Linked DNA regions of Homo sapiens: region 2 is linked to region 1. The links come from fine-mapping of genetic effects on gene expression. Tissue or cell type: whole blood. Region 1 holds a variant in brackets; the other region holds the start of a gene. All regions are shown on one strand. Distances are between the middles of the regions.

Region 1 (8,273 bases):
GGAGACACAAGGAGTGAAATCAACACAGCCATCTCTTGCCCTAATTGCCTGAGGTTAATAATTGCTTGTCTGAAACTGACTGTTTATGAGGCCCAAGAGAGAAAAAGAGGCTCACAGCCTAGCCAAATGGACTTGTGAGTTTTAGAATACTTGCTCCTAGGATCAGGAAGAAGCAGTCTTCCTTCCATAGACTGAAGTAGTCTTTGGGAAGGAAAAATCTGTTCCTCCTGCTATTCTTTGTCAGTAACTGGCATCAACATCTAGCCAGATACCCTGGCAACCCTTCACCCTTCAGCTCCCATGTTCTTCCTTCCACCAGTCACCAAGCCCTGTGGATCCACCCCTGGAGCATTTATCCTTTCAGTTCTTGCTCTTGTCATCTCTCTCCAGCAGCTTTTCCCCCTCCTCCTTAGCGGTCTCCCAACCACCTCCCATCCAAGTCCATCTACAGAAGCACCAAAGGAACCTTCTAAAACAGTTTAGATTGTGGCTAGCCAGTCTTTAAAGACTTCTGATGGTTCCATTTCATCTATCAGGTTAAGTCTAAACTCCAACAGCAAACAAGACCCTTCACCACTGGGTCTCATTTCTCCAGTTTCACCTCTCACCACTCTTCCACACACGCCCTGTCCTCCAGCTACACTGGACTATTCCCAATTTCTGAAAACATCATGCTGTTTCATTCTTCTGTGTCTGTTCTTAGGCTATTCCTTCTGCCCAAGCCATCCTTCTCTGCCCGCTTTCTAGTAGAAAGCATTCGTTTGATAGCCAGGTGAAAGGTCACTTTGTCTATGAGCCCAAGCAAAGGTGGTAACAACCGTTGATTATAGTTGACATTTATGGATCACTTGCTAGGTGCCAGGCACTGTACTGTATCCTCTGCATCAAGAACAGTTCCTGACTTGGACAGGCGCGGTGGCTCATGCCTGTAATCCCAGCACTTTGGGAGGCTGAGGCGGGCGGATCACGAGGTCGGGAGATCGAGACCATCCTGACTAACACGGTGAAACCCTGTTTCTACTAAAAATACAAAAAATTAGCCGGGCATGGTGGTGGGAGCCTATAGTCCCAGCTACTCGGGAGGCTGAGGCAGGAGAATGGCGTGAACCCGGGAGGCAGAGCTTGCAGTGAGCCGAGATCGCGCCACTGCACGCGACACAGCAAGACTCCACCTAAAAAAAAACAAAAAAAAAACAAAAAAAAAAAAACAAAAAAAACAGTTCCTGACTCAAAAAGGTCCTCAGGAAACATCACAACAGCCCTGTGAAAGCTCTATTTCTGCTTCTTAGAACAGCTTTACTGAGATAAAAACCACACATTCTACCCATTTTACAGGTCAAGAAATCAAGACAGAAACAGAAAGCTTCAGTAATGTGACCAAAACCACATAGCTGACTCCGGTACCCACTCTTAATCCCTGTGTTAATAAGCCTAATACTGATGCTATCTTATAATAATCTGCATATGTTTCTCTCTCTCCCCATTTCTCTGTGAGTTTCTCAAGGGCAACACATTTATCTTAACTTTGGCTCTCCAGCACCTAGTACAGTTCCTGGCACATGTGATAAATGAACAAATGAAGAAATGAATGAATGAATATCATTCAGCAATACATATGAAATCCTTTTTAAAAATATGAGAATATTAAAGGAAACCAATGTTCTTGAGGAAGAAAAACTTATGAAGTGTAATACACAGAGTCATGAACACAGGCAAAGCACAAAATAAATCTAACTCAAATAAAGCAGAGCCTGAAGAATAGTGGTTGAGGGTTTGTTGTGGCAGAGGGCTGGCACAGAGAATGCTCTCTGTGGAGTAAACTATTGCATGGCTGAGGCCTGCAGTCTGGGGGCAGAAACACAGTGCTGCAACAGTCAGTAGGTTGGTGTGTGGGAAGTCTGAGTGTGGGATGCTGGGACAGGTGTGGACAGGGCGGACGCACAGCCGGAGCAAAAGTGAGGGTGAGTATGGAGGCAGGCAGGAGACTCAGAAAGGGCTATGTGTTTTGAAAAAAGCTTGAAGGGGTAAAAAGGAGTTAGGAAGGCAGAGGAGGAATGATATGTGCTTGGGGCAGAGTCAGAGAAGATCAAGGAAAGTGAGAAGTGACTTCAAATATTTTAAACAAACTGTGCAATAAGCAAACATTTCTGGAGTTTGCTCTATACGAAGAGTGTGATGGGTGCCAGGAAACCTGGTGACTCAGATAGTCTCTGTCCTCAGGGAGCTCCCAGTAAACAATTACAAAATACAGGAGGAAAGTACAAAGGAAGCAGACCTAGCCCATCAGGGGAAGCTGACACCTGAGTTTTGAACAATGAGTAGGTGAGGCTGGGCAGTCCAAGGCTGTGCACAGGTTGGAGGGCAAGAGAGAATGGTGTGCTGGGGTGGGGCTGTGTGTACTGTAATTAGCTCAATATAGCCAAAACAGGGCAAGAGCTGGGAGGAGTGACAGGAAAGAGAACACAAAAGGGGCTCCCGTGGATGCTGGTACCACTCTTCCTTAATCTGGGTGCTGGTTACTCAACGTTTCGTGAAAATTCACGTATCTGTACACTAATGAGTTATACATTTTTCCGTATATATGTCATACTTCAATAAAAAGTTACAATCCGGCTGGGCGTGGTGGCTCACCCCTGTAATCTCAGCACTTTGGGAGGCCGAGGAGGGTGGATCACAAGGTCAGGAGTTCGAGACCAGCCTGGCCAATATGGTGAAGCCCCATCTCTACTAAAAATACAAAAATTAGCCGGATGTGGTGGCGGGCGCATGTAGTCCCAGCTATTCGGGAGGCTGAGGCAGGAGAATCTCTTGAACCTGAGAGGTGGAGGTTGCAGTGAGCCGAGATCACGCCACTGCACTCCAGCCTGGGAGACACAGCAAGAGTCCGTCTCAAAAAAAACAAAAACAAAAAAAAAGTTACAATCCAAAAAGTCTCAGCAAGCAGGTAGGAGTCAGATCACGGAGGGCTAAGCTTGCACAGTCATCCAAAAACATCTACCTACAGGCCCAGACAGGATACCTGAAATCATGTCTGAAATGGCAGCCTCATGTGGGCAAGAGCTAGGGCATCACGCTGGCCTAACCAGAAGGAACTGTGCCAAGAGGACTAAGAGTTTTACCCCAAAATGATATAACCTACCATTTGCTAGGGCAGCCCAGATGCACAGGCACTAGGCTTTCTATATAAGCCTTGATATTTAGCCTTATCCTAGGGATATTAGAGTAAATCAGTCAAATGTGTATGTACATTGGCTGTAGTATCAGGAAATTTCATTATCTACTCAATCTAGCTTTGAATATGTTATGTTTTCTAACTCTCTATTTGTGTCAGGGTGGGGGCCAAAAGCCTCAGCAAGACCGGGGGTAATACTTTGCCTCCAGGGACTGCACCTCACAGCGATCTGGGCCTGGGTGGGTGGCACAGCTACAGGAGTGAGCAGGAATGTAATGAGGTGGGGCCATGGGGACTGGTTCAGGACAGGGACTTCAAGTGGAGTAATCAGAGAATAAAGAGATTGGGTCACAGGTGATGATCTATACCAAGACAGGCAGAAACGCACTGGAATGTAGTCAAAAGGGCTCAGGTCCCACAGGACTATCAGAAAAGGAAGTTGCACCAGGGTGTGGGGCAACAAGTGAGACTGCCCAGGAGGAGGAGGAGATCCTGGGGGCAGGGCCAATGTATTACATTCCTTGCCAAGTGTGTTCTTTTAACGGGGCAGCCTCTCTCAGAGCAATCCGTACATATCAGTGATAACGATGATAATTTATTGAGCACTTACTCTGTTCCAGCCATGACTGTAAGCACTTTACTTGCCTTAAGCCATTTAGTCTTCTCAATAATTCCATGAAGTGGGTACAATTACTGTCCCCATTTTACAGATAATGAAACTGAAAGACAGAGAAGTTATTTGTCTGGGGTCACGAAACTAGTGAATGAGAGCAATAGGATTTAAACCAAATGGTTTTACTTCAGACCCCATGTTCTGACTGCATCACTGGGCCACCCTCTTGATCTCAATCAAGCACCATAAAAATAACAATAGGCAGAGCAACTAGTTATTGAGTGGATTCTGCTAAGGAAGCACGCTAAGCATTTTATATTTCTTATTTATTCCTCCACTATCTCTAGGAGGTAGATATTCTGGGATCAAACTGAGGCTCTTGAGGCTGCATGATTTGCTCAAGGCTACAGAGCTGGTAATTAGAATAAGCAGGCTTTGAAGTTGGGTTGACCTGACAAAAACTGAGTCCTTGAGTCCTCTATGACTCCTTCCATTGGCAGGGCTTTGGCCTACAGGAACCTCAACTCGAAGTGATGGGATCACCAGGCCTCAGGATCATCACTCTTCCATTGTTCCTCTAAGGCTAGGCTCCAGGAAGAGAACCTCATTGAAACCTCCCAGGTCTCCCTATAAGGCCTATAAGGATGCTAACAATCATGAGGTCTCTTTTATTTTTTAATTTTTTTTACATGGTCTCACTCTGTTGCCTAGATTGGAGCTCAGTGACGCGGTCATAGTTCACTACACTCAAACTCCTGGGCTCGAGTGATCTGAGGGATCTTTTAAAAGGGAGGATACTATTAAAAATAGCAACCAATACCATCTGAGCAGTTATTACAC[G/A]CCTCCATACCATTCATTCTTTATATTCACTCTATAAGGCAGACACTCTTTCATCCCCATGCTGCAGATAAGGAAACTGAGGCTTAGAATTGTTAAGTGACTTGCCCAAGGTGATAGAGCCAGGAGACAGTGGAGCTGGGATTAGCCACCAGATCTGTCTAACATGAGAGCAGCCTGGGCTCTTAATCATGCTTGAATACCTTCTGATAGCACTGATCCTTCTTTCTCCTTGGCAAGCAAGTCCTGTCACATGGCCTTTTTTGGTGGCATAAGGAAAGCTGGAAGAACCCTTAGGTGGCAAACTTCAAGAATATCTCGCTGTTGACAAACACCAATGGTGAAAAAGCAGGACCATCTATTAGCATCTGTTTGTCTGTTTTCCTTTTTAAAGCCTAATGAAGACTACTTCCCAAGGAAGGAGTTTTTAATTAGCTCACTGAAAGGCAGAGTACACTTTGCCCAAGCAACAGCCTTCAAAGCGAAACTTAAGCTGCTCCACTAAACTAATATCAACCTGCCCAAAGACCTGTGTTCCCCAGCCAACACTACAATAAGGACATCACAATACAATGGCCCGAGGCTTGTCCTGGCCTGCATCTCTCAGAGTGTCCCAGGCAACCCTGGGCTGCCACAAAGGAAGCCAGGGGAAAGCAAGCAGCAAGAGTCAAGGGGACAAAGCAAACAAGGTCACTCCCTTCTGTGGTGTATCTGCTCCATGGAAGTCTGGGGAGCATTGCTAAGTTTACTTCCACTGCCCCTATCGTCTTATCAATCAAGTTAATTTAATTTCGTTTTTAATTATGTACTCACTGAAGAAACTTTGGAAAAAAAACATATGAGGCCGGGCGTGGTGGCTCACGCATGTAATCCCAGCACTTTGGGAGGCCAAGGCGGGTGGATCACCTGAGGTCAGGAGTACAAGACCAGCCTGACCAACATGGAGAAACCCCGTCTCTACTAAAAATGCAAAATTCGGATGTGGTGGCGCATGCCTGTAATCCCAGCTATTCGGGAAACTGAGGCAGGAGAATCACCTGAACCCGGGAGGCAGAGGTTGTGGTGAGCCGAGATTGTGCCATTGCACTCCAGCCTGGGGAACAAGAGCAAAACTCCATCTCAAAAAAAAAAAAAACAAAAAAAAAAAAACTACATATCTATACGAAAAGGAAATAAAACTCACCCATGAACTTAATCTACAGGAACAAGTATTATCCTTTTGGGATCTATTTTCTAACTATTTTTGTTGCTTTAACATAGTTGAGATTCATTAAAATGCTGGGCACAGTGGCTCACACCTGTAAGCCCAGCACTTTGGAAGGCTGAGGCAGGTGGATTGCTTGAGGCTTAGAGTTCAAGACTAGCCTGGACAACAGAGCAAGATATGGTCTTTACAAAAAACCTTTAAAATTCCGAGATTGCACCACTGCACTCCAGCCTGGACAACAGAACAAGACTCTGTCTCAAAAAAAAAAAAAAAGAAAGAAAGAAGGAAAAAAAGAAAGAAAAAAACCCAACTAGGCATGGTGGTGCATGCCTGTCGTCTCAGCTACATGGGAGGATGGGGTGGGAGGATCACTTGAGCCTAGGAGTGTGAAGTTACAGTGAGCTATGACTGTGCCACTGCACTTCAGCCTGAGTGGCCTGGGTGACAGAGTAAGACCCTGTCTCCAAAAAACAAAATTAGATTAAAAAAAATACATATATATAATATATATATATATATACACACATACACAATTTTACATTGTTTAAAAAAACATTTATTTTCATGTAGTTTAAAATTATATTTAAATATCATGTGCATAATATTCTACTACATGGGTAAACCATATTTTACTTAACCACTCCTCTCTAAAGTATTTTCTAATTTTTCCAGTGATTATAAATAATTCTGCGATTAATAACTTTGTACCATAAAGCTTTCTGTCTTTATTTCTGCATTACTTTAGGATAGGTTCTCAAAAGTAGAATAAAAATCAAAACTACAAACATTTTATCCCCAGGTGGATAGTGTTAGAAAAATAAATGAATAAAATTTTTTAAAACTCCAAACTTTTTTTTTTTTTTTTGAGACGGAGCTCCGCTTTTGTTGCCCAGGCTGGAGTGCAATGGCGTGATCTCGGCTCACTGCAACCTCCACCTCCCGGGTTCAAGCGATTCTCCTGCCTCAGCCTCCCGAGTAGTTGGGATTACAGGTGCCCACCACCACGCCCTGCTAATTTTTGTATTTTTAGTAGAGACAGGGTCTCACCATGTTGGCCAGGCTAGTCATGAACTCCTGACCTCGGGTGATCCACCTGCCTCGGCATCCCAAAGTGCTGGGAATTACAGGCGTGAGCCACCGCGCCTGGCCAAAAAAACTCCAAACATTTTAAGACTGCCCATGGTTGTACAAATTTATCAGCCAACTTCCATGTGGGAGAATATCTATTTGATAGAACATTTGCCAGAACTGAGAATTAGCTTCTAAAATCTTTACCAATTTCAGAGGCAAAAAACAAAAAAAGCTTTCAAAAGTTTTTAAATTTCAATTTGCCTTTTCTTTATTAATTATCCATGAGTTGAATATTTTTCCATAATTTTCAGTGATTTATATTCCTTTTCTTGTGAATTTTCTCAAATATTTTCTTTTTTAGGATAAAAAGTAAATTATTCCTTAATTTTATTAAATAATTTTATTAATATTATGTGGTAAAATGTGAACTGTAGAAATATAACTTGCAGAAGTTATAACTGAACTAACTATATTATATATACTGTTAGCAGAGATTACTAAAATACTCAAAGAGCTGGAGTGGTTCAGAGACCTAGCTAAAATAGAACTCTTCAAATATTTTAACAGATTAGAAATGTTGTTTGTGAGGGTCTCTATTTATAGTAGCAAATAATGGAAAACAAATGTCCAACAAAAGAGAAGCGCTGGGATCTCATAACAAATACGCAAGAGGAACTGAAGTGGACATGCAGCAGAGTGATGAAAGACTTCCTTTCCAATTTATAGGTTTGAATTTCTTTTATTCTTACCAAATGCTTAAACTACTTGCAAAATTAAATTTAAATTTAAAGGAAATGACAAATATGTGACCAATGTCAGACATGATTCATATGAAATAAGTGATAAAAGTAAAACAAAATTATGTATATAACATTACGAAAATGTCTATGAATTCATTAAACAAAAGTCTGGAGTGATATAAAATTTTTTTTGCTCTGTGGAACAAAAAAAAAACCATGGCTGTGAAAGAGATACATATAACTTACTTACATGTTTTTCTTCCCCAAACAAAAACCTTTTCGTTGACTTACAGGTCATAAAATATTTTTTTTTAATGGCATACTTTTACATTTTTACGAGCGACTCCTAGGAAAACAAATAAACATGCACCTTCTGAGGGCATGTCTTCAGTTTCTCTATCTTTGCACTCGGCTATTTTAAAGATGACATTTCCAAAGGCCAGTACTTGGTCCCTTCTGCCAGGCTGCTGCGTATATTGTTTATTTTAATGGACACCAGACACCTTGATAAATGACAACCTATCTGAACCTGACACTCTGGAAACAGGGATTAAGGCAGGGAGAGTTCACAGACAGCAGAGTATTTACTGTTAAGAGTTATTTCTGACAAAATGACCACCACGATCTTCAGAA
Region 2 (8,273 bases), 66 kb before region 1:
CTCTAAACTTATTACCTATCAGGTGTCCTCAGCCTTCAGTAGTTACCAGTCTTTCACTGTGTGTAGATTCTCTTGGATTTCCTGGCTGTGAGTGACAGGTTTGCTCTTTTTTTGTCTTGGTGCTCTGGACCCCTGTACAATACTGAATTGTCTTTACTAGCCATTTGTTCCTGGCTTTTAAGAGAATATTTCATGTTTTACCACATAGTATAGTGTTTTACCTTTAAGTACATGTTTACTATACGTTGGGTTTTTTTTTTTTTTTTTTTTTTTTTTTTTTTTTTTTTTTAGACAAACTCTCGCTCTGTCACCAGGCTGGAGTGCGGTGGCGCGATCTCGGTTCACTGCAACCTCCGCCTCCCAGGTTCAAGTGATTCTCCTGCCTCAGCCTCCCAAGTAGCTGGGACTACAGGCATGCACCACCACGCCCAGCTAATTTTTGTATTTTTAGTAGAGACGGGGTTTCACCATGTTGGCCAGGATGGTCTCAATCTCTTAACCTCATGATCCGCCTGCCTTGGCCGCCCAAAGTGCTGGGATTACAGGCATGAGACACCGCGCCCGGCCTGTTTTTGTTTTTTGAGATGGGGTCTCTCGCTCTGTCGCCAGGCTGGAGTGTAGTGACACAATCTTGGCTCACTACAACCTCCACCTCCCTGGTTCAAGCAATTCTCATGCCTCAGCCTCCCACGTAGCTGGACTACAGACACGTGCCACCATACCCAGCTAATTTTTTTGTATTTTGTAATTTTTGTATTTTGTATTTTTTGTATTTTTTTTTTTTGTAGAGATGGGGTTTCACCATATTGCCCAGGCTGGTCTACAACTCCTGGACTCAAGTGATCTGCCTGCCTTGGCCTCCCCAAGTGCTGTGATTACAGGTGTGGGCCACCACACCTGGCCTATTTTTTGTTGTTGTTGTTTTTTGTTTGTTTTCAGCATTTTTTGTTGTTTTTCTGAGAAAGGGCCTCTGTCACTCAAACGATCCTTCCTGAGTAGTTGGGACTATAGGTGTGTGCCACCAAAGCCAGCGAATTTTCTTATTTTTTTTTTTTTTTGAGACAGAGTCTCACTCTTGTCACGCAGGCTGGAGTGCAGTGGCATGATCTTGGCTCACTGAAACCTCTGCCTCCCGGATTCAAGCAATTCTTGTGCCTCAGCCTCCCAAGTAGCTGAGATTACAGAATGCACCACCACACCCAGCTAACTTCTGTATTTTTAGTAGAGACAGGGTTTTGCCATGTTGGCCAGGCTGGTCTCGAACTCCTGGCCTCAAGTGATCTGCCCACCTCAGCCTCCCAAAGTGTTGGGATTACAGGCGTGAGCCACTGTGCCTGGCCTAATTTTCTCATTTTTGTAGAGACGGGGTCTCACTATGTGGCCCAGGCTGGTCTCAAACTTCTGGGCTCAAATGATTTTCCAACCTGGGCCTCCCAAAGTGCTAGGATTACACTATTACTCCTTCTTAAATTTCTTTGAAACTCTGCTCATGGATTTTCTGTATTTATTATCTAAGTAATACATCTATGTAATAAGGCTATAAATCTGATTTTTTTTTTTTTTAAAGAAATGGATCTTATTTTGTCACCGAGGCTGGAATGCAGAGCTGCAATCACAGCTCACTGCAGCCTTGAACTCTTGGGCTCAAGCAATTCTCCAGTCTGGGCCCCCCAAAGTGCTGGGATTACAGGTATGAACCACCACACCTGGCCTGCCATGGCCCCCCTCCCAAGTTTTCTTTCTTTTTTTTTTTTTTTTGATGGAGTCTCGCTCTGTCGCCCAGGCTGGAGTGCAGTGGCGCGATCTCCATTTACTGCAAGCTCCGCCTCCCAGGTTCGAGCCATTCTCCTGCCTCAGCCTCCCGAGTAGCTGGAACTACAGGCGCCCGCCACCACGCCCAGCTAATTTTTTGTATTTTTAGTAGAGACGGGGTTTCACCATGTTAGCCAGGATGGTCTCGATCTCCTGACCTCGTGATCCGCCTGCCTTGGCCTCCCAAAGTGCTGGGATTACAGGCGTGAGCCACTGCGCCCGGCCACCAAGTTTTCTTAGCATATGTATCCTCATTTTTTGTTTGAACTAAATAATTTTTATTTATATATGACTTCATATTTAGAATAGGTTTAAATTTCCACACAGCTGGAGCTTACGCGGCTTTTGTCTGTGGCCAAAGAATATGGTTGAAACTGATTTGATATCTGTTGAGATTTGTCGTGCACCCTAGTAGTTGGGTCATTTTTGTAAATGTTCCTTGTGTGATTGAAAATAATGTGTTGGTCTCACACAGGTCTGAAATTTAAATTTTAAAAGTTAAAAAACTAACTGTCAGGTTTTCTATTGGGGTTCATTGATCTTGATTAGTAACTGTATTAACATCCTCTATGTCCTTTTTTTTTTGGTTGTTTGGTTTATTAGTTACTCAAAGAGGTCTTATGTCTCCCTATGATGGAGGACCTGGCAATTTCTCCTTGTGTTCTTAATATATTTTCAGCCTCTTTTTTTTTTTTTTCGAGACAGAGTCTCACTCTGTTGCCCAGGCTGGAGGGCAGTGGCGCAATCTCAGCTCACTGCAACCTCCGCCTAGCAGGTTCAAGCAATTCTTGTGCCTCAGCCACCTGAGTAGTTGGGATGACAGGCGTGCACCACCACGCCCAGCTAGCTAATCTTTGTATTTTTAGTAGAGACAGAGTTTTGCCATGTTGGCCAGGCTGGTCTTGAATTCCCAGCCTCTAGTGATCCACCCACCTCGGCCTCCCAAAGTGCTGGGATTACTGGCATGAGCCACTGCGCCTGGCCTATTTTCAGCCTTAAAAACAAAAACCCTGGAACATAGAAGTTCAGAACTTTCCTCTCTTCACAGAGTTCCTCCTCGCATCATTTCATGTTGATCCTCTTATCCCCAGTGTCTTCTGCCTGAAGGCCTATTTTGTCTGAGTTTTCTATAGGTACATCTTTTGGTTAGTTTTTCTCTAGTACACCTTTTCCCATCGTTTTACTTTTTGGTGCCCTTAGGTTTTAAATTTCCTCTTGTAAATAGCATAGAGCTGCATCTTATTTTTTCTTGGCCAATCTGGTCATCTGTGTTTTAAGAGGTGAATGTAAACCACATTTTCTACCTCTGGTTTTGTACTATATATTTACCATCCCTTTTACTTTGCTTCCTTTTTCTCCCTTTCTGCCTTCCATTATAGTTTTAATACCCATCACTACCCTTTTCTCTGCATTGGCAGTTATAGTTCCGTTTGTATTCTTTTGGTGATCCTCTTAAATATCTGAAATACACACCTGACTTTACAAAGCCAGACAATGCTCAGTCTCTTTAACCCCCTCTCAAATTGCCCTCTCAGTCTTCCATGTTCTTGTGTCTCATGCATCTTGTTTCTGTGGCCCACAAATTAATCATTATTATTCATATTGCATATTAAATGCTTGTTTAGATTCACATGTTTACCAATTTGCTCACCATTTTTCCATCTAATTTCTTCCTTTTGGGTTCCATGTCCTTGTTACTAAACTACATTCTTTAAAAATTATTTCGGCGGCCAGGCGTGGTGGCTCACACCTGTAATCCCAGCACTTTGGGAGGCCGAGGCGAGTGGATCACGAGGTCAGGAGATCGAGACCATCCTGGCCAACATGGTGAAACTCCATCTCTACTAAAAATACAATAATTAGCTGGGGGTGGTGGCAGGCGCCTGTAATCCCAGCTACTGAGGAGGCTGACTGAGGCAGGAGAATCGCTTGAACCCGGGAGGCAGAGGTTGCAGTGAGCTGAGATCGCACCACTGCACCCCAGCCTGGCGACAGAACGAGACTTCGTCCCCCTCCCCCCTCCCCCAAAAAAATGTTGATCTTCAGTCTGCGCATTCTGCTCTGGATTTTAAGCATCATTTCTGGCAGCTCTTTTTCAGGAACTGTCTCTGCAGGTCTTTCAGTGTTCGCCTCTGGAGCTCTGCTCGGGCCCGCGAGTTCTCCTGGCGTTGCCATCTGTGCCCTTTTCCTTATTCCCCATCACCTGTCTCTCTGGTGAGCTGCTTCCGATCAGCCTCCAGGTCCACGATTTCTCTTCTGTTGTCCTTTTCTGCCTTCTCACCTCATCCTCTGAGACCTGAATTTCGATGGCTCTACTTTTCAATTATATTATTCTTTTTCAAACCTGGGCGTTCATTTCTAGCATCCTGTTCTATCCTGTGTCTGACTGTGCCTCCCGCACCTTCTCCCTTCTCTCGCCCTAAGCCCCGTGAAGGCGCCGGGCCTTTGGCTCCGGCTGTTTCCCACGGCGCCCAGAACCGCGTCAGTCCTGACACAGACTCGGTGAGGGCGGGAAGTGGTGCCGTGGGGCTGCAGCCTGGCCCGCCCGCTCCATCGGCCTAGGGCGGCCCCACCGCCCTCCGGGCCTTACCTTGAGTTCGGGCTGCGGGAGAAGCTCCCGCGCTGCCCATGACGTCACGGGACTGTGACGCGCCCAGAAGCCCCGCCCCTCGCGTCCCGGTCCGCGGACCCAGGCTCTCTGCGCCGTGACGTCACGGGTCCGGGCGGGCGGGTTGTGCGTCGGCCCAATGGGAGCGGCGCACTGGCCTCCCCTTTAAGGAATGTTGTGACCTGACGTCACCGGGCGAGTTACCTCCCGCAGCCGCAGCCGCCGTGCTCAGCGCGAGCCCCGGAGCCCTTGAGCGCGAGGCGCGGAGCCCCCGGAGCCCCCAAACCGCAGACACATCCCCGCGCCCCAGAGCCCCGGCCTGCGCGCCCAGCCGGGCCCGCGCGATGCCCTCAGACCGGCCTTTCAAGCAGCGGCGGAGCTTCGGTGAGGCCCGGCAGGCGAGCTGCGAGCTCTGGGGCAGGGGTGCCGGCCGACCCCGACTGCCGCAGGTGACGTCAGCCCCGTGACGTCAGGCTCTGGCTGGACCCTCGGGCTGGGACCAGCTCCGGCCTGGGCGGGGGCTGCCCGCTTCCCCACCGCGATAGGTGCCAGGGGCTGTGGGGCCTGATGGCCCCGGGGGTGGGGGCTGGAGCTGGGGCGTGGCCGGGGGCCGCCCCTCCGGGACAGGCGGGGCGGACCTGGGCCGGCCCGACCCGGCCTCACGGTCTGGCCGCTGTCCGCAGCCGACCGCTGTAAGGAGGTACAGCAGATCCGCGACCAGCACCCCAGCAAAATCCCGGTGAGTCCCGCACCCCCAGCCCTGCCCCGCCCCCGCCTCGCGCGTTCCCGACACGACCCCCTGCCCGCCCGCCCTGCTCCCAGGTGATCATCGAGCGCTACAAGGGTGAGAAGCAGCTGCCCGTCCTGGACAAGACCAAGTTTTTGGTCCCGGACCATGTCAACATGAGCGAGTTGGTCAAGATCATCCGGTGCGTGGGCAGCCGCCGCCAGGAGGTGGCTAGGGTCGGGAGGGGAGCCGGGTTCCCGCCGAGAAGGGGTGGGAGTGGGGTCAGGGGTGATGGGACCGGGCGGTGGGCCCCTGTTCTGGGGTGGCTGGAAAGGTCAAGGTCGGGGCTGCAGTCGGTGTTGGGTCAGAGGTGACAGCTGGGGTGAGAATGGGTGTGAAAGGCTGGGAATCATTCTGGGGGTCAGGGCTATGTCCGTCCCGCAGCCAAGCCCCTCACAGCTGCATACTCTCCCGCCGGCTGCAGGCGCCGCCTGCAGCTGAACCCCACGCAGGCCTTCTTCCTGCTGGTGAACCAGCACAGCATGGTGAGTGTGTCCACGCCCATCGCGGACATCTACGAGCAGGAGAAAGACGAGGACGGCTTCCTCTATATGGTCTACGCCTCCCAGGAAACCTTCGGCTTCTGAGCCAGCAGTAGGGGGGCTCGGCCTGGGAGTCGGGCGGCCCCGGTCAGGCCCTGCCCAGAGAGCTCCTGGTTCCTGAACTGAGCTGCCTCTACCGTGGTGGGCTGGGCAGGCATGTGCCCCCCTAGTCAGAGGGCACCAACCCACCTACTCTGCCCCTGGGTGGATCCTGGGCCGGTCGTGTTAGGGTTGTCCCTCTGGGTGCTGGCTGGTGGGATGGGGGAGGGTGGGGAGCAGCTCCCAGCACCCCTGCTGTGTGGTTCATCTTTTTTTTAGGCCCCTGCCTGTCTGCCCATCTGCCCCTCACCCACCCGAGGCTCTGCCCACCGCCTGGACCTGCCCACCCCTGAAAGACTGGCCCCTGGCTCCCCGCCCCTCGGTCTCCACGTGGTGTATGGATCTGTGGTCATTGTCCCTCTGCAGAATAAAGATTGCTCAGGCCTGCCTGGCCCTGTGCCTCCAGCCGCTTGCTTGGGAGTGGGGAGGGTGCTGGTGGGGCTGCCCGCACCATCCCCGGGCTCTGGCGCACAGACTTGTGTTCTGTGGCCGCGGTGCTCGCTCTGGAAACCCACACCTGTGTGTAGTGTTCCAGAACATTATTAGGGGCCACCCCCTCTAGGAGTGCAATGCAGATGTGGTCTCAGGGTAGACTTCATAACAAAAAACATTTATTAAGTAGCCACAATCTAACAAGCCCTGCTCACCTGCCTCTTCTCCTTCCTGTCTGGGAGGGGGCTCCTTGGTGTGCAGAGCCACAAGGTGGGGGTCCAAGTTGGGGAGCTCCCAGTTCTTCCCCATAGGCCTTGCTGTCAGTCAGCCATGGGTCCCTTTTGGTACCAGAGACTTGTGACCCTGGACTCGAACCTCTTCTGCCCAAGCACTCGCCTGCTGGCAACTCTGGCTGGAGGGCTTGGCCCAGCTTCTGGCCCCACAGCCCCCTGAGGTCCATGCAGCCCTGTGCCAGCCAGGCCTACTTGAGCACGAGCATGGCCTCTGTGCCATCCTTGGCGGTCAAGTAGAGGCCATGTGTGAGGTAGTACTCCCGCCGCAGGAAGGCATAGAAGTAATCAGAGATGAGCAGGATCTGGGGGGAGAGAGAGGGTGTGAGGCGCTGCTGGGTACCTCCCCCTAAACCCAGGATCCCTGAACTGCTGGCAGGTGTTGTTGGAAGACAGGAACGCCCCTGCCTGGCTCTGGATCACAATCACTGGAGAGGCCCTCCTCAGGGCCCCCACCTCAGGGCCCATAATTGACCCTGCAAGGTCTGGCCTCTCAGAAGCTGCCTGGACTCCCCCTGCCCCCACCCATGGTCTACACCTCCATCCCAGGCTCTGGCCTCGAATGCCAGCCTGGTGCCTGTGCAACCAGAGGCCTCTGCCCCATCCTCCCACAGCCACTTCCATCCCAGCCAGGTCCACATCAAACTCCTCACCTTCCCTCTGTCAAATACACTTCTCCCACTCAGCATCCATGCCCCCATCTTCCAGCCAGGTGCCCAGGCCACAAAATTGCCCTGACACTTCTCTCATACATCGAGCCACCATGACCTGTCAATTCCCCCTAAACTCAAATCCACCCTTTGGATCCATCCCCACAGTCACTACTCTGGACAGAGCCACTGTCATCTCATCTCCTAAACAACAGCAAAGCTTGGTCCTTGGGCTCCCTGCTCTCAAACCCGTGCCCACCCCATTCTCCCTGGCAGCCAGAGGGAGCTTTTCAAAACCCACATCTGATGGTGTTACTTCCAGCCTTCAAATCCTCCAAAGGCTTCCCAAGCCTTAGGGCAAAGCTCGAACTCCCTCGTGCTCTGAGACCTTGCTAGGGTCCCTGTCCGCCCTCTCCCGGCTCCACCTCACCCCACGGCAGGATCTTTACTGTTTCTTCTGCCTGGAATGTTCTCTCCCCGTTCATCTAGTTGACAGCTGCTTACTCTTCAGGGCTCAGGAAGGATCACTTGCCCCCCAGATTAGTTCTTGGCCCCACTAATCTCTACTCGATAACAGACTCATCGAAAGTGTAATTTTCCATTCAGCTGACAGCCTGACTGTGCCTCCTCCCCTGGCCCGGGGCCTCCATCAGGGCAGGGTCTTCGAATGGTTCTGTCACTATGGTATTTCTGTGCCCAGCTCAGTCTGTCTGTCCCATTCTGGGCCACACACAGAAGAATCAAAGGGAGCCTAGAAGCTCAGCCCACTGTCTCTTCAAGGAGGCCCAGAAAGGAATAGGGATTTGCCAAGGGCCCTATACACCAGACCCGGAGTCTGCAATCCCAGTCAGCCCAAGCTTCCCAAGACCACTGGTCCCTGGAGCAGGTTGGGCAGGGCCCAGCCTCAGAGAAGGATGAGGGGACAGGGGCTCACACTACAGACACCGCAGCTCTCAGGCACCTGGAGGCCTCAGAGGATTGGCACCAACCACCTGGCACAGATGGGGAGACTGAGGCACAGAGCACTTGGCTATGGTCTTGGGGCAAGACAGG

The links. PIP is the estimated chance that this variant, and not a neighbour inherited with it, causes the effect.
Region 2: it holds the start of MAP1LC3A, and the variant in region 1 is fine-mapped to the expression of MAP1LC3A in whole blood (TOPMed, PIP above 0.99).

What each region holds. Positions count from the first base shown.
Region 1 is chr20:34,619,626-34,627,898 of GRCh38, forward strand. All of the region lies in intron 6 of PIGU (phosphatidylinositol glycan anchor biosynthesis class U), which reads right to left. Among named protein-coding and RNA genes, the nearest start is that of PIGU, 53 kb to the right of the region's middle. The variant G/A (reference allele first, on the strand shown) is at 4,626.
Region 2 is chr20:34,554,105-34,562,377 of GRCh38, forward strand. It overlaps MAP1LC3A (microtubule associated protein 1 light chain 3 alpha), which reads left to right and starts at 4,614. Exons shown (of 4, transcript NM_032514.4): 1 at 4,614-4,804; 2 at 5,104-5,159; 3 at 5,243-5,349; 4 at 5,632-6,241. The coding sequence starts at 4,765. The coding sequence ends at 5,794. PIGU (phosphatidylinositol glycan anchor biosynthesis class U) reads right to left here. Exons shown (of 12, transcript NM_080476.5): 12 at 6,438-6,875. The coding sequence ends at 6,762. RefSeq lists silencers at 4,316-4,405, 4,746-4,795, 6,370-6,419.